Linked DNA regions of Homo sapiens. The protein of the gene in region 3 purifies or fractionates together with the protein of the main gene of each other region. This does not show direct contact. Each region holds a gene or a part of one and is shown on either strand. Other genes may lie near its edges.

Region 1 (7,378 bases), on a different chromosome or scaffold from region 3:
CATAAATGAAAACTCAGAAAAGCAAAATTAAATTTATCAGCTGGACATTGTGGCTCACACCTGTAATCCCAACACTTTGGGAGGCTGAAACGGGCGGATCACGAGGTCACGACGAGACACGTCCTTGCCAACATGGTGAAACCCCGTCTCTACTAAAAGTGCTGATCGTGATGGCACGTGCCTGTAGTCCCAGCTACTTGGGAGGCTGAGGCAAGAGAATTGCTTGAACCCGGGAGGTGGAGGATGCAGTGAGCCGAGATCGCGCCAATGCACTACAGCCTGGCAACAGAGCAAGACTCCATCTCAAAAAATAATAATAATAAATAAATTTATATAAACAGGATTAGAAGAGGCTACACCTTATAAGTGACTGAATTTTTTTTCAGTTTAACAATAAAAAATGTATTCTCCATAACTAGTGAGTCAAGTTTTTTGTAGTTGATTTAAGATCAAAGTAACTTCTAGTTACTTGCTGGTCTTCTGATAGTGTCAATGTCTGCGCTACGTGGAGATTTTATAAATGCCAGTGTCCTAGCTCCAATTCAAGAAACCTTTAAGTCATACTTCACTGGTCTTCAAAACCATGCAGTAGTGCCACTAGCAGGAGTAGGTTAAAACAGTAAATCTTCACTAATCCATAATTAACAAAAAATAACTTTACATTATTTATTTAATCCAGGTATGAACCAGTTGTCTGCTCTAAAAGCTAGATATAGATGACCATCATCATTACGGATATATGAAGTAAAAAGTTCAAATTATATAAGTTTTAAGTTAAAAATTCTCTTGATAGCCTGAAAACTTTTCAAATTCAGTTTAGTAATCATATTCAAGAATTAATATAATTTTCCCACTTTACACTAATGCCCATTTAATATACCACAACCTGGATAAAACAAAAGTTACATGGGGTGGAGGGGTGTAGTGATTAGGGTCTCACTGTGTTGCGCAGGCTGGTCTCAAACTCCGGAGTTCAAGAGATCTTCCTATCTCAGCTTCCCAAAGCACTGGGATTATAGGCACGAGCTACTGCATCCAAAAAATCACTTTTTTTTTAAAGACAGTCGCCAATTTAAGTAACATAATTTATTCTGAATTAGCAAAGCTTCTCCTGTAGTCATGTAAATATACCACATGGTCTGAAAGTAGATAAGGCCACTGTTTAGTTAAAATTTAGGTTCATCGGCAGGGCGCGGGGCGCGGTGCCTCGCACCTGTAATCCCAGCACTTTGGGAGGCTGAGATGGGCGGACCACAAGGTCAGGAGTTCAAGACCAACCTGGCCAACATAGTGAATCCCCGTCTCTACCAAAAATACAAAAATTAGCCAGGCATGGCAGCACGCGCCTGTAGTCCCAACAACTCGGAAGGCTGAGGCAGGAGAATCTCTTGAACTCGGGAAGTGGAGGTTGTATGGTGAGCAGAGATCACACCACTACACTCCAGCCTGGGAAACAGAGCCAGACTCCGTCTCCAAAAAAAAAAAAAAAAAAGCTAGGTTCATTAACTTCTGGATTCATTAAAGAAGTCCCTATTCACAACTTCTAACGATTAGGTGGGGAAAAAGCCACTAATACAAGACTCCTTCGCTGGAAGCCATCATCCTCAGCAAACTAACACAAGAACAGAAAACCAAACACCACATGTCCTCACTCATAAGTGAGAGTTGAACAATAAGAACACATGGACACAGGGTGGGGAACACCACACACAGAGGCCTGTCAGGAGGTGGGGGGCAAGGGGTGGAAAAGCATTAGGACAAATACCTAATGAATGTGGGGCTTACAACCTAGATGACAGGTTGATAGATGCAGCAAACCACCATGGCACATGTATACCTATGTTAACAAATCTGCGCATTCTGCACATGTATCCCGGCACTTAAAGTAAAATAAAATAAAATGACTCTTTCAAATATATATACCTCCAAGTTTAACAATAACAAATTTTGTAATTTCTTTCCAAAAGACTGAAATACAGGAAAGAAAACAGTTTTCTAATGACTCAATCTCTTGAGAATGGTGTAATGCATTATTAAACTTTCTATGCTAAAGCAGAGCTGTACAATAGGTACATAATGTGAGACATACATATAACTTTAAATTGTTTAGTAACCACATTAAGGTGAAAACTGGCCAGGCGCGGTGGCTCACGCCTATAATCCCAGAGCCTTGGGAGGCCGAGGAGGGTGGATCACCTGAAGTCAGGAGTTCAACACCAGCCTGGCCAACCTGGTGAAACCCTGTCTCTACTAAAAATACAGAAATTAGCTGGGCATGGTAGCGGGCGCCTGTAATCCCAGCTACTCAGGATGCTGAGGCAGGAGAATCACTTGAACCTGGGAGGCAGAGGTTGCTATGAGCCAAGATCATGCCATTGCACTCCAGCCTGGGGGACAAAGGAAGACTACTTCTCAAAAAAAGAAAAAAAAAAAAAGTAAACTTCAAAAAACATACATATATTTTGGAAACACTCTTGCTCTGTTGCCCAGGGTGGAGTGCAATGGCAGATCATGGTTCACTCAGTCTTGAGCTCCTGAGCTCAAGGGATCTTCCCACCTCAGACTACTGAGTGGATGGGTCTACAGGTGCACACCACCATGCTCAGCAAATTTTATTATTTATTTTGTAGAGATGGAGTCTCATTATGTTGCTCAGGCTGGTCTCAAACTCCTGGGCTCAACTGATCCTCCCACCTTGGCCTCCCAAAGTGCTGAAATTACAGGCATGAGGCAACACGCACAGCCCAAAATACATTTTATTTAACCCAATATCAAAAGTATTTCAAAAGAATTCAAAATTAATTTTAAGTATTTTTTCCATATAAAAACCAATATTTGTTTAATATTTGATGAATAAAACTAATGAAATACTTTGTATTTTCCATACTGGATCTCTAAAATCCAATATGTCTTCTACACTTATTGCACATATCAATACATTTCAAGTACTCAACAGCCACATGTGGCTAGTGGCTTCTGAACTGGACGGTGCAACTCTAGAGCAGAATAATGATCCTCTGCAATTTGCTGACAAAAATGCAACCCAAGAATCTTCCCATTCTCTAATTACAAATGATTTTTCAGGCACATCCTTATGTTAAAACTTGACTACGAAACACCAAAGTGATGTTATAACCTTTACAATCTCTAATAAAATATTAAAAATCACAAGTTATGTTACTTTTATATGGTGTGCAAACCTCTTAAAAAAGCCCAGGCAGAATAACGACCATCGCTGCAGTGCAAATTTTAAAAATATGAACTATCTCTTTGAAAATAAGCTCACTCCTAAAATGAAGTAGATAATAGTCCTCCTCTAGGAATAAAGGAATTCTAGCCATAATGAGTGATCTTACTCCGCCACAGTAGCAGCATTCACTTTACTAAACAATGAACGATAACCTTAAGGTGGCTGTATGTGAACAAAATACTTTTTCATGAGAGAAGGCCAAAGAAACAACCAGAAGAGTTCATAGTACCTTTGCAAACTTGAAGAATGGTCTTGGATCTTTTCTGAAATATTCAATATCAAACATCGCTTGAGGATCTGGAAGATCTGGGAAGTCTACAGCAAGGCGAGCATAAATACCATCCCTTGACCTGAAGTCAGGTATTCCACATGAAACAGACACCTAAAATGTGCATGGCATAATTTGTAAAATTAAATCTTCTACCTTTATAGGAACTAGCTAGCTCTCTTACCATATAATTAGGTAAGAGTTGAGAAAGAAAATTTTAGTCTGAAACTTCTTTTAAGAAATAAAAATACAACCCTACCCTTATTTCAGAAATAAAACTCCCAAATAACTGAGTAAAATTAAACATACCTCATATTCCATCTTTAACACAGATAAGGAATTTTTAAGTCAGGCCAATTTTAAGCCTTTTAAGCATTTAGCCAACAAATTAAAGCAAATGCAACTTGAGAAGAAAATAAACCATTTCAACAAATTATTTTAAGTAGGGAAGAATTTTTTCTTTTTTTTTTTGTTTTTTTTTTTTTTGAGACAGAGTCTCACACTGTCGCCCAGTCTGGAGTGCAGTGGTGCGATCTCGGCTCACTGTAAGCTCCGCCTCCTGGGTTCACACCATTCTCCTGCCTTAGCCTACTGATTAGCTGGGAATGCAGGTGCCTGCCACCGCGACCGGCTGATTTTTTGTATTTTTAGTAGAGACGGGGTGTCACCATGTTAGCCAAGATGGTCTCGATCTCCTAACCTCGTGATCCGCAGGCCTCAGCCTCCCAAAGTGCTGGGATTACAGGTGTGAGCCACCGCGCCCGGCTTTTTGTTTTTTTTCTTTTTAGACAGTTTCGCTCTGACGCCCAGGCTGGAGTGCAGTGGTGCCATCATGGCTCATTATGGCCTTAACCTTTCCGGCTCAAGCAATCCTCCCACCTCAACCTCCTTAGCAGCTGGGACTACAAGTACGCACCAGCACACCAGGCTAATTTTTTGTAGAGTCAGGGTCTATGTTGCTCAGGGTGATCTCAAACTCCAGGGCTCAAGTGATCCTCCCACTTTAGCCTCCCAAAGTGCTGGAATTACATGCATGAGCCACTCCACCAGCCAAGAATTTCTATTACAGAGAAGTAATTCCAAAGAAATTGCTCCTTTAGTTAGGATTCTATTACCTCAATACTACAACAATTCTCTATTTTCATTAAAAAAAACAATGTATAGCCAGGCACGGTGGATCACGCCTGTAATCCTGGCACTTTGGGAGGCCAAGGCAGGCGGATCACAAGGTCAGGAGTTTCAGACCAGCCTGGCCAATATGGTGAAACCCCATCTCTACTAAAAATACAAAAATTAGCCAGGTGTGGTGGTGTGCGCCTGTAATCCCAGCTACTCAGGAGGCTGAGGCAAGAGAATTGCTTGAACCCAGGAGGCAGAGGTTGCAGTGAGCCAAGATCCTGCCACTGCACTCCAGCCTAGGCAACAGAGCAAGACTCAGGCCAGGAGAGGCTGAGACTGCAGTGAGCCATGATGACACCACTGCACTCCAGCCAGGGCAACACAGCAAGACCCTGTATCCAAAAAAAAGAAAAAAAAAAAAGGTGTATAATATTTCAATTCTTCATTTCTTTGAGACGTGCCCACTAATCGTACAAAAAAATCCTGACATTTCAAATAGAGATTTCAGAAGTTATTGTTTCATCATCTTACCAGAGTTGACTCCAATTTGACCTGGAGTCAAGGTCAATTTAAGTTAAACAAACTTGTCTACATCGTTATCTGTGAGCAAAACATACTCCTGATGATCATCTAAGATTATGTAACACCCTTTCGCAACTCGAAATGGCAGAAAACAGGACAAAATTTTACTACAGCAGTTGCTCTGGTTGCTAACATGTAATATACTCTGTATAAAACACACACTATGCAATAGTCTTAGGTAACTAATTAGCTGCAACCCTAAGGTAGATCAAATAGAAAATGTCAAGTCGCCACAATCACATCATCTTAATTAATATGGAGGGAAGGTAGGAATCTGTTACTCTTCCCAACACTAAGCTTTTCACTTGTGAATACCAATTAGGTTTCCAGTTTCTCATAAAGATCTAACAAATACCCAATTTCTCCATCAGACTGACATCCCTTAACAAAAGCAGAGTTTCAATTCCCTGCATCTCCTTTAGGAGCTATGATATAATGTAGGTAGAAATCTTGCCTTAACTCCATTTACCCACTGTGCTATAAATAAGCAGAAGCAAATATTTTTTTAAGGCTGGAGAGGTTTTAAAAATCTGAACTAATTTAGCAACTGCTGCTGCACTCAGTTTTTGGCAGTTCCCAAACATCCATTATCATGTAAGGATAAATCCTTCTAAACCAGAAAAATGTTTCCTACTTGGAAAAGGCATAAGAAAATACATATACGACCTCCCCATGTACTAGTCTTACATACCCCAGCTCCAGTTAGAACTATAATTTTTTTGCACTCTTGCAGTAATTTCACAGCATCTTCAATTGTATTAATATCTTTTCTTTTTTTCCTTTTTGGTGGTTCTGAAAGGATATTAATAACAATCTGCCACAGTGTCATATCATCCAACTCAGGTGGAGGTATTGTTTCCGGCAATAAATCTTTAAGAATTGTTCGAGGATCTGTGCCAATCATAAGATGTTGCTGAACAAAAGTATATGGACCTACAATAAGGGGGAAAAGGCTTAAAGTCAACTTATCAAGTAATTCAAAATCTCATTTATTTTCTGAAGTAATGAGTTAGCATTCTGTGAGGGTTTTTTGCAAAGTAAGAAAATGCAATTTAATGGTATTTCATTCTCGGTACACTCAGAATTAATGCTATATCCCAATGAGATTAGGAAGATCTAATGAAGAGTTGGGAAGACCCCCTTCAGCTGTAAGTATATATTTCAAGAGTCTAATTAATTAACAACCAGAATTAAGTTCTTATGGTTAATATCTAGAAACACACACCATAATACCAAAAGTATTTACAAAAGGGTTCTACGACATAGAAAAATCGTACCAGTCCTAAAAGCCTGTACTACTTATCATTAAAACCACACAGGAAAAAGAAATGAAAATCTATACATAACTGCCATCTTAATTTTTTTCCGGTAATTTTTCAATTTGATCTTAACCCATCTTCCAAGATAATACATACAATGTTGATGTTCTGAGAACTAATCATTTTCTTTTACCCTGAGATTGCTCAAACCAGCTCCCTAGGCTTGAGAAAACAAAAATAAATAAATAAATAAATTACAGACACCAAAGAGAAACTGATCTTCACTATGTTTAAATAATCAAGCCATTTGTAAGAGTGAGAACACAAAAAGATCCACTTTCAAGATGGTTATACCTTTGGTATAAAAAACTGATAATGCTTTCTACATCGAAATACTTTCCCATTTCATTCACATATTTATTAAATATTTATTGAGCACAAACTATGTGCCAGGCACTTTTTTAGGCACTGAAAAGACAGGAGTATACAAGTCAGTCAAAAATTCCTGCTCCCGTAGAACTTATATTCTAGACCAGGAAACAACACAATTTAAAAAGTAAGATACAGAGCTTTTCAAGAAGTGGTAAGTGTACAATAAAGTGAAAAAACAAGGAATATGAAGTGAGGGAGGAAGATATTCTAACCGGATGAAGAACACTACACAAAAAGGGGACAAGTGAGGTGGGGCAAGGTGGCACATGCCTGTAATCCCAGCACTTTGGGAGGCCCAGGCGGACGGATCACCTGAGGTCGGGAGTTCAAGACCAGCCTGACCAACATGGAGAAACCCCGTCTCTACTAAAAATTCAAAATTAGCCGGGCGTAGTGGCATATGCATGTAATCCCAGCTGCTGGGGAGGCTGAGGCAGGAGAATCGCTTGAACCTGGAAGGCGGAGGGT
Region 2 (8,310 bases), on a different chromosome or scaffold from region 3:
CTCCCAGCCCCAGCCACTCACCACGTAGCAGCCCTCGCAATATGCCCTCCTCTCCACGGCGTAGAAATGCTGGCCGCGAAGCTGGGCCCGGCATGTAGAACATACAAAGCAGCCCACGTGAAAGACGCGATCAAGGGCCACAACCCCAGCCCCATCCCCAACCACATCTTCTCCGCAGCCACCACACTGGCCTGAGGACAGGGAGAAACAGCATCAGTCTTCACAGACCCAGGAAGCCACTGTCCCCTCTGTCTCCCAGCCTCCCTTCCCACGTCCCACCCACCCCACAGCCTCAGCTCACCAAAGTACTCCCCGCTGGGCGGGTGGTTCATGTCGTGAACCAGCTTCTTCGTCAGCCTATCCAGCTCATCCTCTGGAGGCTGGCTCAGGGGCACCTGGAAGGTGGGAATCGGGCTCGGTCCTACTCTAGCTCCTGATGCTGTAATACCAGGGCCCTCAGCCGCCAGGCCATGGCCTGTTAGGAACTGGGCCACACAGCAGGAGCTGAGCAATGGGCAAGCAAAGCTTCATCTGTATTTACAGCTGCTCCCCATCACTTGCATTACCGCCTGAGCTCCACCTCCTGTCAGATCAGCAGCGGCGTTAGATTCTCATAGGAGCATGAACCCTATTGTGAACTGTGTGTTCGAAGGATGTAGGTTGCAAGCTCCTTATGAGAATCTAATGCCTGATGATCTGTCACTGTCTCCCATCACCCCCAGATGGGACTGTCCAGTTGCAGGAAAACAAGCTCAGGGCTCCCACTGATCCTACATGATGGTGAATTGTATAATTGTTTCGGTATATATTACATTGTAATATACATTGTAATATATACCGAAACAATTATATATACTATATATTCTATTATTATTATAACAGAAATAAAGTGCACAATGAATGTAATGTGCTTGAATCATCCTGAAACCATCCCCCTCCCACCCCCTCCCATCCCCCTCCCCAGTCCATGGAAAAATTGTTTTCCCCAAAACTGGTCCCTGGTGCCAAAAAGATTGGGGACTGCTATAATGTCTCTGAAGGTGGCCAGGCAGTTCCAGCTAGAAAGCTCATCTGAGAACATCTCAGCCCAGGGGCCCGTAGGCAGTTCTTTTTTTTTTTTTTTTTTTTTTTTGAGACAGAGTTTTGCTCTTGTTGCCCAGGTTGGAGAGCAGTGGTGCGATCTCGGCTCACCGCAACCTCCACCTCCCAGGTTCAAGTGATTCTCCTGCCTCAACCTCCCGAGTAGCTGGGATTACAGGCATGTGCCACCATGCCTGGCTAATTTTGTATTTTTAGTAGAGACGAGGTTTCTCCATGTTGGTCAGTGTGGTCTCGAACTCGTGACCTCAGGTGATCCACCCACCTCAGCCTCCCAAAGTGCTGGGATTACAGGCATGAGCCACCGCGCTCAGCCCCAATGGGCAGTTCTATCCTGCTCCCCCGCACTGCCCTGCCCTTACCTATTCCACGTCCCAGACCTCTGACTCTGCTCCAAAACCAGCCCCTTGGCCAGGCGCGGTGGCTCAGGCCTGCAATCCCAGCACTTTGGGAGGCTGAGGCAGGCGGATCACCTGAGGTCGGGAGTTCGAGACCAGCCTGGCCAACAAACTGGGGTTTTAGTGAAACCCCGTCTGTACTAAAAATACAAAAATTAACCAAGCGTGGCAGCGTGTGCCTGTAATCCAGTTATTCAGGAGGCTGAGGCAGGAGAATCACTTGAACCCGGGAGGCAGAGGTTGCAGTGAGCCAAGATGGCACCACTGCACCCCAGCCTGGGCAAACAAGAGCAAAACTCTGTCTCAAAAAACAAAAAAGCCCCCTAAAACACCACCAGCCACCCCACCCAGTCGGTGTCCCATTGTCTGTAGGGCCTGAAATCCCAGTTCCCCAGGGCTCACCTGGGGCCCGTGCTCGCCTCCTCTTCCTCTTCCTGCAGGGCCAGAGACCCCAGCAGCTTCCTCTTTGGCCCCTGGCCCTGGCTCTCTCTGGCTCCTATAGCCAGGCCCCCAGACTTCACCTCGGCCTGGGAGAGGAAAGTGGGGGCCCGGGAGGGGCCCAGAGGCCTGAGAGGCTCCCCGCCTGGGTGGGCCGCAGCCCCTCACTGGCTGTGCCACCTTCACTTGCACGGGGAAGGCTGGGCCAGCCGGGGTGCTGGCGGTAGTGTAAGAGGCTGGAGTGGGGCCCCCATAGGGAGACGCTGGGAGCGGCGAGGCTGGATTTGGCTTCAGGGAGCCCGTGCGGTAGGCAGGAGGTGGCGGGGGCTCATATGCCTGAGGAGAAACGCAGGCCAGAAGTCGTAAGCAAGGACCCCACTCCAAGACCCACATTTGTGGAAATGACCCTGGCTGTGGGGAAGCACAGGCTTTTTGCATTTGACAAGGTCCCGTCCTCAAGTGGCTGACATGTTGGTACTTGCAGCCACGCTTCCTCCATGCTGGGGTGCACATTACACACATGGGGGATCGATCAGGCTGGGTCTGAGAGTCCAGAGAAGGGGGCAGGGTGCTGACGGGGAGGAGGGGCAGAGTCACCTGTCGGTCTGGTCGCCGTGACGCATGACCCCGACCCCCATTCAGCTCGGCCAGCGTGCTGCTCAGCAAGTCTATCTCGGCGTCCAGGCTTCCAGGGCGAAGGCCCCCCCTGTCTGCAGGGAGCCCCTGAGGATGGAGCCAGGGCAGGAAGAATGCAAATCACCATAGGCCTTCTCCTGTCCTGGGTCCCTCAGACTCGGTTCTGGGGGATCCCACATGTCCCACCCCACGATCCCGGGTCTCACCTGCGTGTGCTGGAGTACTCCATGGGACCCCACCCACGCCGGCCCCCGATCCTCCGGTCCCCCTGGGGCCTGGTAACACTGCTCAGATGGAAGGGGGCAAAAATTGACCCTGGGGTGGGGCTGGAGTGCTGGGTTGAGGGAAGAGAAATCAAAGGTGGGGTGGCGGAGGACAGGAGGGGTGTATATTTGAGGAGCCACCCTCTCCGCCTCTCGTTACCTCCTCCCCCAAATCTAGGGTCCCAAGAGAGCGCAGGCGGCTGTTCCCCCCGCCTCGGCTTGGGGAAGGGGCAGGAGGAAGCAGCCAGGGCGGGAGGCTGGAGCGGTAGGACAGAGGTGAGCGCCACAGCTGGGTGGCTCTTCTGTCTCACAAGGGCTGCCTTACCTGCTCCGTGGGCCGGTGGTGGCCCCGGGGTGCCGCGGGGGATCGCCCTCCCCTGAGGGGCTCTGGCGGGCTCCGGCTGCTTCGGGGGCAGCCAGGTGGGCCCCGACATGGCCTGGAAAGGGGGACTCCAGACAGCGGTCTTGAAGCCCCGAGCCTCTGGCCTTCACCCCCTCTTCCGTCCCGCACCTCGTTTGGGACTCCAGAAAAGAAAACTTTTTCTGGCTTTTTTTTTTCCTCTTCCTCCCTAATTTTGGGGACGACCACGCCTCCGATGACGTCACCACATTCCTGGGGGAGGGTCACGTGGCCCCCTAGGCCCTAAACTGCCATTTCTCCCTGAGTCAGCCCCCTCCTGCCGAGAGGGGAGGGCTCTCCGGGGGATCCCGAGTCACTGGGGGTTGCGGGCAGCTGGGGATGGGAGGTGCGGGCCCGAGCCAGCCTCCAAGTCCACGGATGCGTCCGGGCCCCGCACCCCAGCCCTGCACGTGGCAGCCTCGCGGCGGGAGGCTGAAGGCTCCGATCTCCACCCCTCTGCAGAGCTCTCCATTCCCACCCCCTCCCTCTCAGCTACCCACCAGCACTGCTCAGCCAGCCTGTAGTGTTTTGGTCTTTTATTCATGGTCAGCAGAGTTAGAAAAATAAAACAGAACGAAAACATCACCACCCCAGTGGGCCGGTGAGTCTGGCCAAAATGGGGAAACTGAGGTAGCCCAGAGTCACAGAGGAGGCCTGGCCCCTAGCATCAAGGCACCAGTGAAGGGAGGCTGCGGACTCCCTCCCCTGCACGGTGGGGACAGCCACCCAGAGTTAGTGTGCTGGGGTCCCTCTGCCAAAGGAGGTGGGCGTGATGCCCAAGCCCAGGATCCCCTTCAAACCTCCCCTGGGCTCCACGTCCCAAGGGCAGGGCCACGGGCCACAGTGGCCTCCTCTTCCTCCTCCTCCAAGGATCAGGATAGGCCGCCTGCCTGGGCCCTCTCTACCTAGCCCTGGAGGCAGGGGCATCACAGATCAGTGCAGGTGACTGGAGTGACCCCATGAACCAGCAGCGTGGGGCCCAGGTCTCGGGTTAGAGTCTCCAGTAGCGCCAGGTAGCGGGGGTATCGGGCGGGATCGGCTGGCGGCCGAGGCAAGTACAGGAAGGTGAGGGCTGTGATGGGGCCCTCAGCATCCCCACCCTCCGGCCCACCCGGCCCTCCTCCTGTGCCGCGCCCCTGCTGGGCCCGAACCAGGGCGTTGGCGCTGCGTGCCAGGGCCTCTGCCTCTGCGTCTCCCCGCCCACTGTTCACAAAGTCCCCTTCCTCCTCCGCCTCGGGTTCCCCAGCCCCGGCCCCCTCGCCCCACACCACCTCCTGCACCTCAGCCCGGATCCTCAGTTGGCTCAGCAGTGCCCGCAGCCGCCCCTCGGCCGCCCCAGGCGCCTCCCGAGGCCCCAGGCACAGGAAGATCCGGAGCCGGGCGCTATGCCAAGCGGGCACCATGCCCAAGATGGTTGCCATCTGCAGCAGGAAGAGGCCGCAGACATCCACATAGCCGGGCCCACCCCGGGGCCGCAGCAGGTTGAGGGGCCACACGTCCACATGGTGCAGCTGAGAGGTGCCCCCAGACCCCCGGCTCAGCCGCTCAGGGGGCAAGGCCCCGCTGGCCCGGGCCAGCACCACATTCTTGTTCATCTTGAGGGCGTCGGCCACCGTGGCCACATAGTCCTGGGGATTGAGGGCCCGGGGGCTCCCAGGAGCCCGGGGAGGAGGGAACAGGGTGCTCAGAGCTGGGGAACTGCCCTCCCTGGTGCTGTCTGCAGGCTCAGAGAAAGCCGGGTCCGTCAGGAAATGGTCCTGCGGTGGAGCGTCATCGTAGAAACCTAGGACCAACGTGTTGGGCTTCATGCCACCTGGGGGCAGAGCGGGGAAGGCAGGAACAGACAGGAGTCAGGCTCACAGGCTAAGTTTACACCACGCTCCCACACACTGACAGCAAGGTGCGTCAGCCATAGGTATGACATTCCCACTGTGTACGGGCTCTTACGGCAACATTCTGCATATTTGCATAAAGACTTTTCATTTTTCCTAAACACTTTCACATGCATTTATTTTATTATCTCAGTGACTAATCTCCTCCACTTAAACAGGCAAAGTTCGCCTTAGGATTCTTGCCACTAATGAGCACTCCAATTCTATGGAGAGGAGGATGCTGTCCACTCCCGGCTTCTAGCGGGGCATCTGTTTCACGGCAGGGGATGCGAGTTTGACTCTGTTGTGCAAACCAGACACCCTGATCAGCCAAGCTCATGACCTGAATCCCCAGGGTAATAGCGTCCCAGACTCTGCAATGGGAAGATGAAAAAATGGACCAGGCAGGGCACCGTGGCTCACACCTGTAATCGCAGCATCTTGGGAAGCTGAGGCACGTTGATCACCTGAGATCAGGAGTTTGAGACCAGCCTGGCCAATACGGTGAAATGCTATCTCTACTAAAAATACAAAAATTAGCCGGGCATTGTGGTGGGCATCTATAATCCCAGCTACTCAGGAGGCTGAGACATGAGAATTGCCTGAACCCGGAAGGTGGTGGTTGTAGTAAGCCGAGATCACGCCACTGCACTCCAGCCTGGGCAACAGAGCGAGACTCCATCTCAAAAAAAAAGAAAAAAAGAAACAGGGCTACCCCGTATGTTTACTGCAGTAAACCCTAACCCTAGTAGGTTTTACCAAAACCCTAATCATGGTGGTTCATTGCATGGTATCCGCTTACCAGGGGCTATGTCCTGTAGAAAGCACTTTATATTTTAACTTATTTGAAACTCGAAGTAATGCTATGAGGTAGGTAATATTTAGTCTCCTCTTTTTACTGATAAGGAGCCCAAAGCACCAAGGGATGAAGTCACTTGCCCATAGGCTCATATCTGGTAGGTACTGGGGCAGGTAGGTCAACGCAATCCGCCTCCATCCAGCGTGAGAGGCCACACTCTGAGCCACCGAGCTGGGCACGTGGCAACCACAATGCTCCAAGTCCCTGCTGACAAGCTCTTCGTTCTTAATTTTTGAACAACCCTTGTGGAATCGGATAATTGCTGAGTTTACAGGGAGACGCAGAGACCTCTTCCAAGACCCCTTCTCATGAAACAAACACTGCTCAAGCCATAAATCAAATTTTCTATGACAGGAGAATCCACCATTTAAAGGAACTACTTTTCCTTTTATTGGAATAGGTTGGTGCAAAAGTAATTGTGGTTCTTTTTTTCCCCCATTAAAATGGCATCCCAGCACTTTGGGAGGCTGAGGCAGGCGGATCACCTGAGGTTGGAAGTTCGAGATCAGCCTGGGCAATATGGTGAAACCCCGTCTCTACCAAAAATATACAAAAATTAGCCGGACAATGCTGGCGTATATCTGTAGTCCCAGCTACTTGGGAGGCTGAGATGGGAGAATACTTGAACCCGGGAGGCAGAGGTTGCAGTGAGCTGACATTGTGCCACTGCACTCCAGCCTGGGCAACAGAGTGAGACCCTGTCCAAAAAAAAAAAAAAAAAAAGGCAAAAACCGCAATTGCTTTTGCACCGACCTGATATCTTCCACAGGAAAAATTTCGTATTTCATAAGCATTGTGGTCTCTGCACAAAAAGTGAAGACCAGGCTCTCAGATGTTCTGTGGGTCAATGATGCTTGACGACACCCCAAAACATCTCCGCAGGTGTGAATTCCAGCTGATCTTGCAAAATAAACTAGTCATGCCCCCTCCTCAGTATTTCCCAGGGTTCTGATTTACACTGAACTGGGCAATGTCCAACACTGTTGAACTTTAGCCAGACTCTGAATAGAGAAGGAAGCATGCACTTTGGTGACGGGCACTGGTCCAGGATTAAGGGAAAAGGCAGTGACTGAGCATAGATAACCCTGGTGGCCTCAGCGCTAAAAGCTGAGAATTTACCGCTCCATCCACAGACGTCCGCCCCACACAGCCTCCGGCATCCTTTGTGGCTTTGGGTGGCGGGGGCAGGGGAGACATGTTACATCTCCTACATCCCAACCTCTTTCAAAGTCTGGATGAATTACCATCTCTCCGCAAAACCTTTGCTGGCCACATCAGTGTATAGTGGCTGGCCTGCCTTCCTCTGAACACTGGTGGTTAAAAACCATCTGATTTGATGAGGCAGCTGGAGATTCAAATAATGCTCCATTGTCTCCAAAAATACACTCTTCAGTGCCTATGCCCCAATTTTTGGATCAGAAAAAAAAAGAAGGAAAGGCTGGGCACAGTGGTACATGCCTGTAATCCCAGCACTTTGGGAGGCCGAGGCGGGTAGATCACCTGAGGTCAGGAGCTCGACACTGGCCTGGGCAACATGGTGAAACCCCCATCTCTACTAAAAATACAAAAATTAGCCAGGTATGGTAGCACATGCCTATAGTCCCAGATATTTGGGAGGCTAAGACAGGAGAATCACTTGAACCTGGGAGGTGGAGGAGGCAGTGAGCCAAGATCGTGCCACTGTACTCCAGCCTGGGCAAGACAGAGTGAGACTCCGTCTCAAAAAAAAAAAAAAAAAAGAAGAAGGAAAAAAAACCCACAACATCGCCCACCCCATCACTAGTCCCTAGCATCTCCTATTAGACCTTATCACACACTGTCTGAGGCTATTATCTTTGAGCACTGTCTTATCTCCTCTCGACTATAAGGTCCTTTTGCAGTTTGCAATCTGTGGCTGACTCTCTAGGGGAGGGGAGCGGAGATTTGAAGTGGCCACAGAGGAAGGCCGAGGGCATCCAGGGAGAAGCAGCTCACCGAGGCCGGAGATTCGCAGCAGATGCTGAGCCCCCTGGCGCACGGAGGGTGAGAGGGTTAGATCCACAAAAGCCTTCACCTGGGCACGGTCCACCAGGCTGAGCCATGCCCCATACTGCGGCTGTACAGGGTCCGAGGGCAGGGAGTCTACAGAGAAGATAAGGAAAGGAAGGTAGCCAGTGTTGTCCAAACTCAATGTCTCCTAGAGTCCAAATCACAGACGGGCCTGGGCAGGGCTATGGCTACTTGGAGGGGTCATGGGAAAGGATAAAAGGGGCAGAGGGGCTGGTGTCGGGGCTCATGCCTGTAATCCCTGCCCTTTGGGAAGCCAAGGTGGGAGGGCTGCTTGAGCCAGGAGTTCCAGACAGCCTGG
Region 3 (8,047 bases):
CTCAACAAATATTTATTAAGTATCTTTATTTTATAAGTGACAGGGTCTCACTGTCACCCAGGCTAGATAGAATACAGTGGCCTAATCATAGCTCACCATAGCCTTGAACTGCTGGGCTTAAGCCATCCTCTTGCCTTGGCCTCTTTCCTTAGTAGCTAGGACCACAGGCACGCACCACCATGCCCAGCCTAGTACGTATTATGTGTTAGGAATATCACACAACTCTGAAAAGTTACAGCTTTAAAGAACAGACTCTACCTATAATCTAGTCCCACCATTTCATAGAGATCAGTGGTGTCTACATCTGTGCACTTAATTTGGAGAGTGGGGTGCTGCATGCTTTGAAATCAGGCTCATGTGTACACAACCCCATCCTTTGGAGGATATCAATATTCAGATAAGAGAACACATTTGACTTCCCCATTTATTGGCAACATCCACCTTTGTTAAGAGTTTATTTTGTTAACTTTTTTTTCCAATCCAACAATGACATTTTTTGGAGGCCTAGATGTGCCAACTAGTGTGCTTTGGGGATATAGAGCTACAGAGGCAAGGTCTCCATCCCAGAAGAACTCAATGAATTTGGGGAGCTATCACTGTTAATGTAGTATTGATAAAGTGTAGTGAGAGATTTGAAAGGAGCATTCACAAAAGTAATCTTCAGAATCAGAAAAAGAGTATCTTTCTGCAAGAAACAGATTTTCTTTCAGGTAAATGAACCCTTTGAAATGTAATGATCACCTCCTCCCCTGGGAAAGCCTGAGGAAGTGAAAATGCCCAACAGCCTCTCCCTGTGTACAGAGAGGGTAAGGGTAGGGTGACCCGGGCAGGGGGATGGTCAAAACACTGCAGGTCTCACCCCTGCCCATGGGAGCACTCCCCTGCGGGGCTTTGGAAGCATCTCCTCTCAATAGATAATATCCTGTTGGTTAAGAACATTCCAAACCTAAATAGAGAAGTTGCCCTGTTACCCACCCATTCCAATTTATCCAAAGCTTGCTACTTTCCATTTAGGTTCCTTATCTAGAAGTGACCCCACACACTTATCCATGGGCACAAGATTTGTAGAGTGATCTGGAGAAAATGGAGAAGCAAGAATAATAGTAAATCCCCTGGAAGTTTCATTCATCTGTCTCTCATCAAGTAGCTCTTCCCTTGTCACATAGTAGTTATACAGGTCAGAACAGAGAGGCCATAACTGAAACAAAGTTGACCTCCACCATATTCATTACATGTCACCTTTCACATTGCGATTTGGATTTTACCTTCACAGAAGTTCTGTAAAGTAGTCTCTCCATTAGCGAAAAACACACTTTCAGCTTGTAATAAATACCTTTCCCCCCTCTGATATCATGTTATTTTTAGGGTTAACTAATAAACATTTGAAAAGTGATCAGGCCAGGCTCGATGGATCATGCCTGTAATCCCACCACTTTAGGAGGCCAAGGTGGAAGGATCACTTAAGGCCAGGAACTCGAGACCAGCCTGGCCAACATAGCAAGATCCCATCTCTAAAAAATGTTAAAAAAAATTAGAAAGTGATCATTTCACTTCTTTAAGAAAAACGCTTCTTTTTAGAAACGGGACATGATGATGCTCAGCAGTAAATACATATGAGGTGTAATGAGAATCTGTGAGCTTCCTAGCAGTTTGAAAACAGGTAAATGTTAATTCTCTTAATAGACTGAGTATACCAATAGGAAATACCTTAGAAGTTTAAAAATCAACAATGCCAGCAAAATTGAATTGTCTTACATTCCTATACTATCAAATTGTAATGGTCCTTGAAAACCCAGGTCTACAGGTGGGAGAGAAATTATGGGGAAGAAAAATAAATATCCCACAGCATCTCTAAAAGTGAATGCCACCTTACCTGGCACTTTTGTCTCTGCTTTCTAGTTCATTATATAATTAGTGACTTGTGCACAGATATCCCATTTGTGTCACTGAAGTCAAAAGGCTATGAAGTAAGATATAACCATGTCCCATGACATTCTTTTAACATAACATGACTCACTTTATTTCTTTCATCCCTAAAAATTCACTTTAAAGAAAAAGTGGATCCCGGAGCAGTGGCTAGAACCTGTAATCCCAGCTACTCAGGAGGCTGAGGCAGAAGCATGGCTTGAGCCCAGGAGTTCCAGGCTGCTGTGAGCTATGATCACATGGCTGCACTCCAGCCTGGGAGACAGAGTGAAACCCTGTCTCGAAAAAGAAAAAAAAGGAAAAGTGAATCAATTACCTTGAGCATTCGGATTTCCCGAAGGGCAATTTTCTTTATGACAGGGTCATCTTCTGATTCCAGAAACTTCTTGATGGCCACAATCTGACCCGTGTCCCTGTTTCTACATTTGAAAACAACTCCATAGGATCCTTCTCCAATTTTCCCAATTTTTTCATACTTCTCCATCATAGAGGAATAAATCTTCTTAAAATGGATCTTCAGCCGAGAATGGTGGCTCACGCCTGTAATCCCAGCACTTTGGGAGGCTGAGGCGGGCAGATCACCTGAGGTCAGGAGTTCGAGACCAGTCTGGCCAACATACTGAAACTCCGTCTCTACTAAAGATACAAAAAATTAGCCGGGTGTGGTGATGGGCGCCCGTAGTCCCAGCAACTCAGGAGACTGAGGCAGGAGAATCGCGTGAACCTGGGAGGCGCAGGTTGCAGTGAGCCGAGATCGCGCCACTGCACTCCAGCCCGGGCGACAGAGCGAGATTCCGTCTCAAAAAAAAAAAAAAAAAAAAAAAAAAAAGAAAGAAAGAAAAGAAAAGAAAGGATCTTCACATAGTTTGAAAACGTCGCTTATAAAATATTGGCACCAACGGACTGCACTAGAGCCCCACCCAACGATGAGTGTTTGTCACGGTCCTAGAACAGAACAGCACATGTTAAGGAATGAAGAGTGTACCCGTGTCGGCAATGGCAACGCGATCAGGAGTAACAGCCTAGAGTTAGCTGCCTCCAGTAACCCGATTTTAATCGCCCGTTAAATACCCTGTAAGTTAAAATGTAACTTGCCATCCTAAAACGAGCCGAGCTGTAAGATAAGCTATCTTTTTAACGTTATCGTTCATCCGATCTAAGACACCTGAGCTGGCTGGAGTACGGGGAGGGCTAAGGGCTTCCCCGGTTCTAATTTCGGGTCTCATTTCCCTGCGGCAAGAAGACACCTCCCGGCTCCCCGCGGAGGCGGCGGCGAGGCTTGGCCGCAGGAGACCAACCCGCGCCCCGCGCCCCACGCCCCCGGGACTGGGAAAACCCTCCCGCGCCCGGACGTGCACCTCAGCCGCGCCGCGCAGCATGGAGCGGTGCCACGTGTTGGCCAGGGACGGCCCGCGCCTCCTTGCCCGCCCGGGACTCACGGCGCCGCGGCGGTCAGGGACGGGCCTGGCTCCCGCCTCGCCTTCTTCCGCCCAGCTCGGCTCGGCGTGGCTCGGCCCGCGATCCCTATGGGAACCGGCTCCCGCCCCGGGTCTGCCTGGGCGGGGCCGCCGCGCCCCAGCTTCCCACCCCCGGCCCGGCCCAGCCCGGCCGCCCTCCCGGCTGCAGGGAAAGGCCTCGGAGGGCCGCCCTCCGTCCATGGGAGCTGTCCTGACCGCGGGCCGAGTCCTGCTGCCGGGAGAGCAGACCTGCTAGATTTGCAAACTTCCGCAGGCCGTGCAAAGCGCAGCTGTAACCGCGTCTGCGGAGCAAGACGCCTGCGCTAGGAGCCCCTCCTGAGCGGTCCACATTTCCCTGCAACAGCAGTCCCCACACCTCAGAACCGCGGTTATTCCCTTTGGTCCCTTGGAGGCATCTTCTGTGTCTGTGCTGATCAGTGCTGCGGCGTCAGTGAATGAATGAGAGGGAGAAAGGAAAGAAGAGGAAGGCGTGACTGCAGAAATTGCTTAAAGTCAGCACTTTCCTCTACAGTAGGGAAGGTTCCACGGCAGTCTTCTGCTGTGGGACTTTTCTGGTGTGGGAGGTGGAAGCTTACAGAGTCTGCCTTAATTGTTTTTGGTTCCTTTCCCCCATCTTTCTCCCAACGGACTCCTACTGCTCAAATCTGAGCACACTGGCGGGAAGCGGATGGACCTGGGGAAATTATGAAATCATGTCAGTTGCCACTGGGCAGAGTGCCTCACACTTTATCATCCGTCCCGTTCCCAGTGCCAGCATCAATGCGGGTACTTGTCCTGGAAGCAGTACCCGAGGAGAGAAAATTAACACAGTGTCTATGAAACAGGGGCCAATCCCGTGTCAAGCAGCATGCTACTAAATGTAAACCCAGGAAGGGTTCAGAAAGGAGCCTGGAGCTGAGGAGAGAGGGCTGGTGGCTGCCCTGGAAACCCAGTACAAGGATGGCCTAGAGGTGGTCTGTGAACAGAAATTGTTTGCAAATGGCAACCATTGATCTGTTTTCTGTCTCTATAGTTTTGCCTTTTCCAGAATGTCATGAAAATGGAATCAGACCGTATGTAGCCTTTTGAGGATAGAGGATCTCCCCCACCACCCCAACTCCAGTGAGCTTTCAGATGAGATTGTAGCCCCAGATGACAATGTAAGTTCAATCTTGTGAGAGACCTTGAGCCAGGGGCACCCAGCTAAGCCATACTTGGGTTCCTGACCTCTAGAAACTGAAATATGTTTGCTATTATGTTTTGGGGTAATTTGTTATGCAACCATATGTATCTAACACAGAAGCCTTTTATTAATAGGAGGTTGAGAAAGTTCACTTTCATTCCTAGTTTGCTTAGTGTTTTTGTTTGCTTTTTAAAATTATGAATGGATGTTGAATTTTATCAAATGCATTTCTTCATCTAGAGGTGATCATTTCCTTTTCCTTTCTTTTCTTTTTTTTTTTTAATTGAGAGGGAGTCTCGCTCTGTCACCCAGGCTGGAGTGCAGTAGTGTTATCACTGCTCACTGTACCCTTGAACTCCTGGGCCTAAGCAATCCTCCCACTTCTGCCAGGCCTGAGTAGCTAGAATTATAGGTGTGCACCACCTAATTGTTTTTATGTAGTCTGTTGATACGGTGAATTATATTGATTTTTAGATGTTGAACCAACCTTTTGTTCCTGGGATAAACCCAACTTATTTATGATTTTATCATTTTAATGTATTGCTGGATTTGATTAGTAATATTTTATTGGAAATTTTTACATTCATGTTTTGAGAGATATTGATGTATAGTTTTCTTGTAATATCTGCTAATTTTGGCATCAGGATAATGCTGATCTCAGAAAATGAGTTGGGAAGTGTTTATCTTCCCTTTTATTTTCTAGAGATGTTTACATTAAATTGGTATTATTAATTCCTTAAATGTTTGGAAGAATTTTTTTTGTTTTTTTTTTTGAGACAGTCTTGCTCTGTCATCCAGGCTGGAGTGCAGTGGTGTGATCTTGGCTCACTGCAACCTCTGCCTCCCAGGCTCAGGCGATCCTCTTGCCTCAGCCTCCAAAGTAGGTGTGCCACCACGCCTGGCTAATTTTTGTGTTTTTTGTAGAGACAGGGTTTCACCATATTGCCTAGGCTGGTCTCCAACTACTGAGCTCAGATAATCTGCCTGCCTCAACCTCCCAAAGTGCTGGGATTACAGGCATGAGCCACTGCACCCCGCCTTCTAATATAAGCATTTAATGCCATAATTTTTCCTGTAAGCACCACTTTAAATACATCACAGAAATCTTAATATGTTGTATCATCATTTTCATTCAGTTCAAAATATTTTTTTTTTTTTTTTTTTTTTTGAGATGGAGTCTCACTCTGTCACCCAGGCTAGAGTGCAATAGTGTGATCTCGGCTCACTGCAACCTCCGCCTCCCAGGTTCAAGCGATTCTCCCACCTCAGCCTCCCAAGTAGCTGGAACTACAGGCATGCACCATCATGCCCAGCTAATTTTTGTATTTTTAGTACAGACAGGGTTTCATCATGTTGGCCAGGCTGGTCTTGAACTCCTGACCTCAAATGATGCTCCCGCATTGGCTCCCAAAGTGCTGGGATTATAGATGTGAGCCACCATGCCTGGCCCAAAAATATTTTCCTTGTGACTTCCTTTTTGACTCATGGGTTATTTTTGTAGTGTGTTAATTTCCAACTATTTGGTGATTTTTAAAGATATCTGTTATTGATTTCTAGTTTAATTCCATTATTTTCAGAGAACTCAGTTTATATGACTTAAATTCTTTGAAATGTTTTATTTTGTTTTATGACCCAGAAAGAATATGGTCTATGTTCATGAATGTTTCTTTTTGACAATTAAAAAAAATATTTTGAAATGAAGTGAGAAAGTCAGTGTGAATTTCCCCAGAGCTGCATCGTCTGAAGTTCATACCAGGTTAAATCAAGTTTGTCTGGAAAATTAACTTTATGGACTCCACAACGTCAGTACCCAAAGAGCCTGGAACTGTGCCAGGCCTAGTGGTAGTTAAAGTAGGAGCCAGTGTACTGGTTATTTATGCCCAAGTAGGCAGTGAACCAGAAAGCTAGCATGACTTGCAGCTGCAAGTTGTTTTGTTTGGAGGAATTTGAAATAAAATATTAGAGAACAACTTTAAAAGGGAGATGAACAGTCGGCTGTCACCACTTAGCACAAAAGAGAGAAGGTAACGTGGCCTCTAGACTAGTCAAACTGACAGTCCTTTCCCTTGGCAGGTGCGACACTGGTTTTGGTATCAAAGAAGTATATAACTCCTGGAAAGTATAGCTCTTGGGAATCTCAGAAATGGTCTGTTATGTGGGGGCTTTTTCTCAAGCCAGTGCAAAGTGAAACAGCATTATATTCTGCTAATAGTGATCTTTTCTTTGCAGTTTGTATAATTAGCGAGAATACTTCAGTGTTCTTAGAACAGCACAAACCGTACTATGGTATTTTAATCATTTAAGGAAAAATAAACATTCAGTAGGGTAACATATGGTCACAGAAAAAGCCTGGAATTTGGAGTCAGAAGACCAGGATTTCTACCTACTTACTGGTGTTTGATCTTGTGCAAGATAATTACTATTGCCTATATAACAACATTATTTAATGAGTGCTTACTTTGTGGCAGGCATTATGCTATGAATATTTGACCCATGAGCCTCACAATAACCCCAGGAGATAGGCATTAAATATCATCCTGAGCTTTCAGATGACTCTCATTGAGTTGGAGAGGATAAGTAGCTAGCCTAAGGACACCCAGCTAGTGAAGTGTGAAGTCAGTATTGGAATGCAGGTGGTTTGACTCCAGAATCTTTTCTCCTAACCATTTTGCTAATACTACCTAATGCATTGTGGTGGTTGTCAGGATTATTGAGTTAATGTGTAGGACATTGAGAGCTGGCGCAGAGCACTTAAAATGATGCACAGTGTAGCACCTTCCTCCTTTTTTTTAGGCTACCGGGAAGACTCATCTTGTCTATATGCTCCCTTCTCATGGTAGCTCAGCAACTTCATGTGTGTGCAGCTCCAGCACCAGGAGAATGAACTTCCATGAGATTGGGCAGAACACTGAAGCCTCATCTGAGTGCAGAACCCAGGGCCAATGCTTGAAGCCTTTTTTCTTTTTTTTTGAGATGGAGTCTCGCTTTGTTGCCCAGGCTGGAGTGCAATGGTGCGATCTCGGCTGACTGCAAACTCTGCATCCCAGGTTCAAGCCATTCTCCTGCCTCAGCCTCCCGAGTAGCTGGGACTGCAGGCACCCGCCACCACACCTGGCTACTTTTTTGTATTTTTAGTAGAGATGGGGTTTCACTGTGTTGGCCAGGCTGGTCTCGAACTCCTGACCTCGTGATCCGCCCGCCTCAGCCTCCCAAAGTGCTGGGATTACAGGCATGAGCCACCGTGCCCAGCCAGCTTTTTTTTTTTTTTTTCCAATTATGTTGTAAGGAAAGGGGAGTTGAGTCAATGTCATTTTAAAATGACACTCTACAGCAGCTTGAGGAAATACTTGAATTTATTGTCTCTGTTTTAAGTGGAATTGGGAAAGAAATTGATTCCAGAGTCCATACAGACAAAAGCTAATAACTATCATTTAGGGACGCATTTCAGGCTCAGTATCCACATTATCTCTGATCTTTATGA

What was found. The genes of interacting proteins can lie anywhere in the genome.
Region 1: the proteins of CDKL1 (region 3) and SIRT1 purify together in Homo sapiens (affinity purification with mass spectrometry; 4 studies listed by BioGRID and IntAct, with this or other methods). This does not show direct contact.
Region 2: the proteins of CDKL1 (region 3) and TRIP6 purify together in Homo sapiens (affinity purification with mass spectrometry; 3 studies listed by BioGRID and IntAct, with this or other methods). This does not show direct contact.

Annotation. Positions count from the first base shown.
Region 1 is NC_000010.11:67,887,656-67,895,033, reverse strand, and holds part of SIRT1 (NAD-dependent protein deacetylase sirtuin-1), read right to left. Parts: intron 6,153-7,378; coding exon 5,911-6,152; intron 3,633-5,910; coding exon 3,480-3,632; intron 1-3,479. UniProt on the Homo sapiens protein: NAD-dependent protein deacetylase that links transcriptional regulation directly to intracellular energetics and participates in the coordination of several separated cellular functions such as cell cycle, response to DNA damage, metabolism, apoptosis and autophagy.
Region 2 is NC_000007.14:100,862,455-100,870,764, reverse strand, and holds the start of TRIP6 (thyroid receptor-interacting protein 6), read right to left. Parts: upstream 3,379-8,310; 5' UTR 3,268-3,378; coding exon 3,159-3,267; intron 2,905-3,158; coding exon 2,777-2,904; intron 2,730-2,776; exon of another isoform or gene 2,658-2,729; coding exon 2,532-2,657; intron 2,271-2,531; coding exon 1,899-2,270; intron 396-1,898; coding exon 302-395; intron 192-301; coding exon 22-191; intron 1-21. Other genes in the region: SLC12A9 (solute carrier family 12 member 9), read right to left, coding at 4,160-5,046, 7,938-8,084. UniProt on the Homo sapiens protein: Relays signals from the cell surface to the nucleus to weaken adherens junction and promote actin cytoskeleton reorganization and cell invasiveness. Involved in lysophosphatidic acid-induced cell adhesion and migration.
Region 3 is NC_000014.9:50,393,459-50,401,505, forward strand, and holds the start of CDKL1 (cyclin-dependent kinase-like 1), read right to left. Parts: upstream 3,424-8,047; 5' UTR 3,366-3,423; exon of another isoform or gene 2,872-3,365; 5' UTR 2,414-2,871; coding exon of another isoform or gene 2,411-2,413; coding exon 2,243-2,410; intron 1-2,242.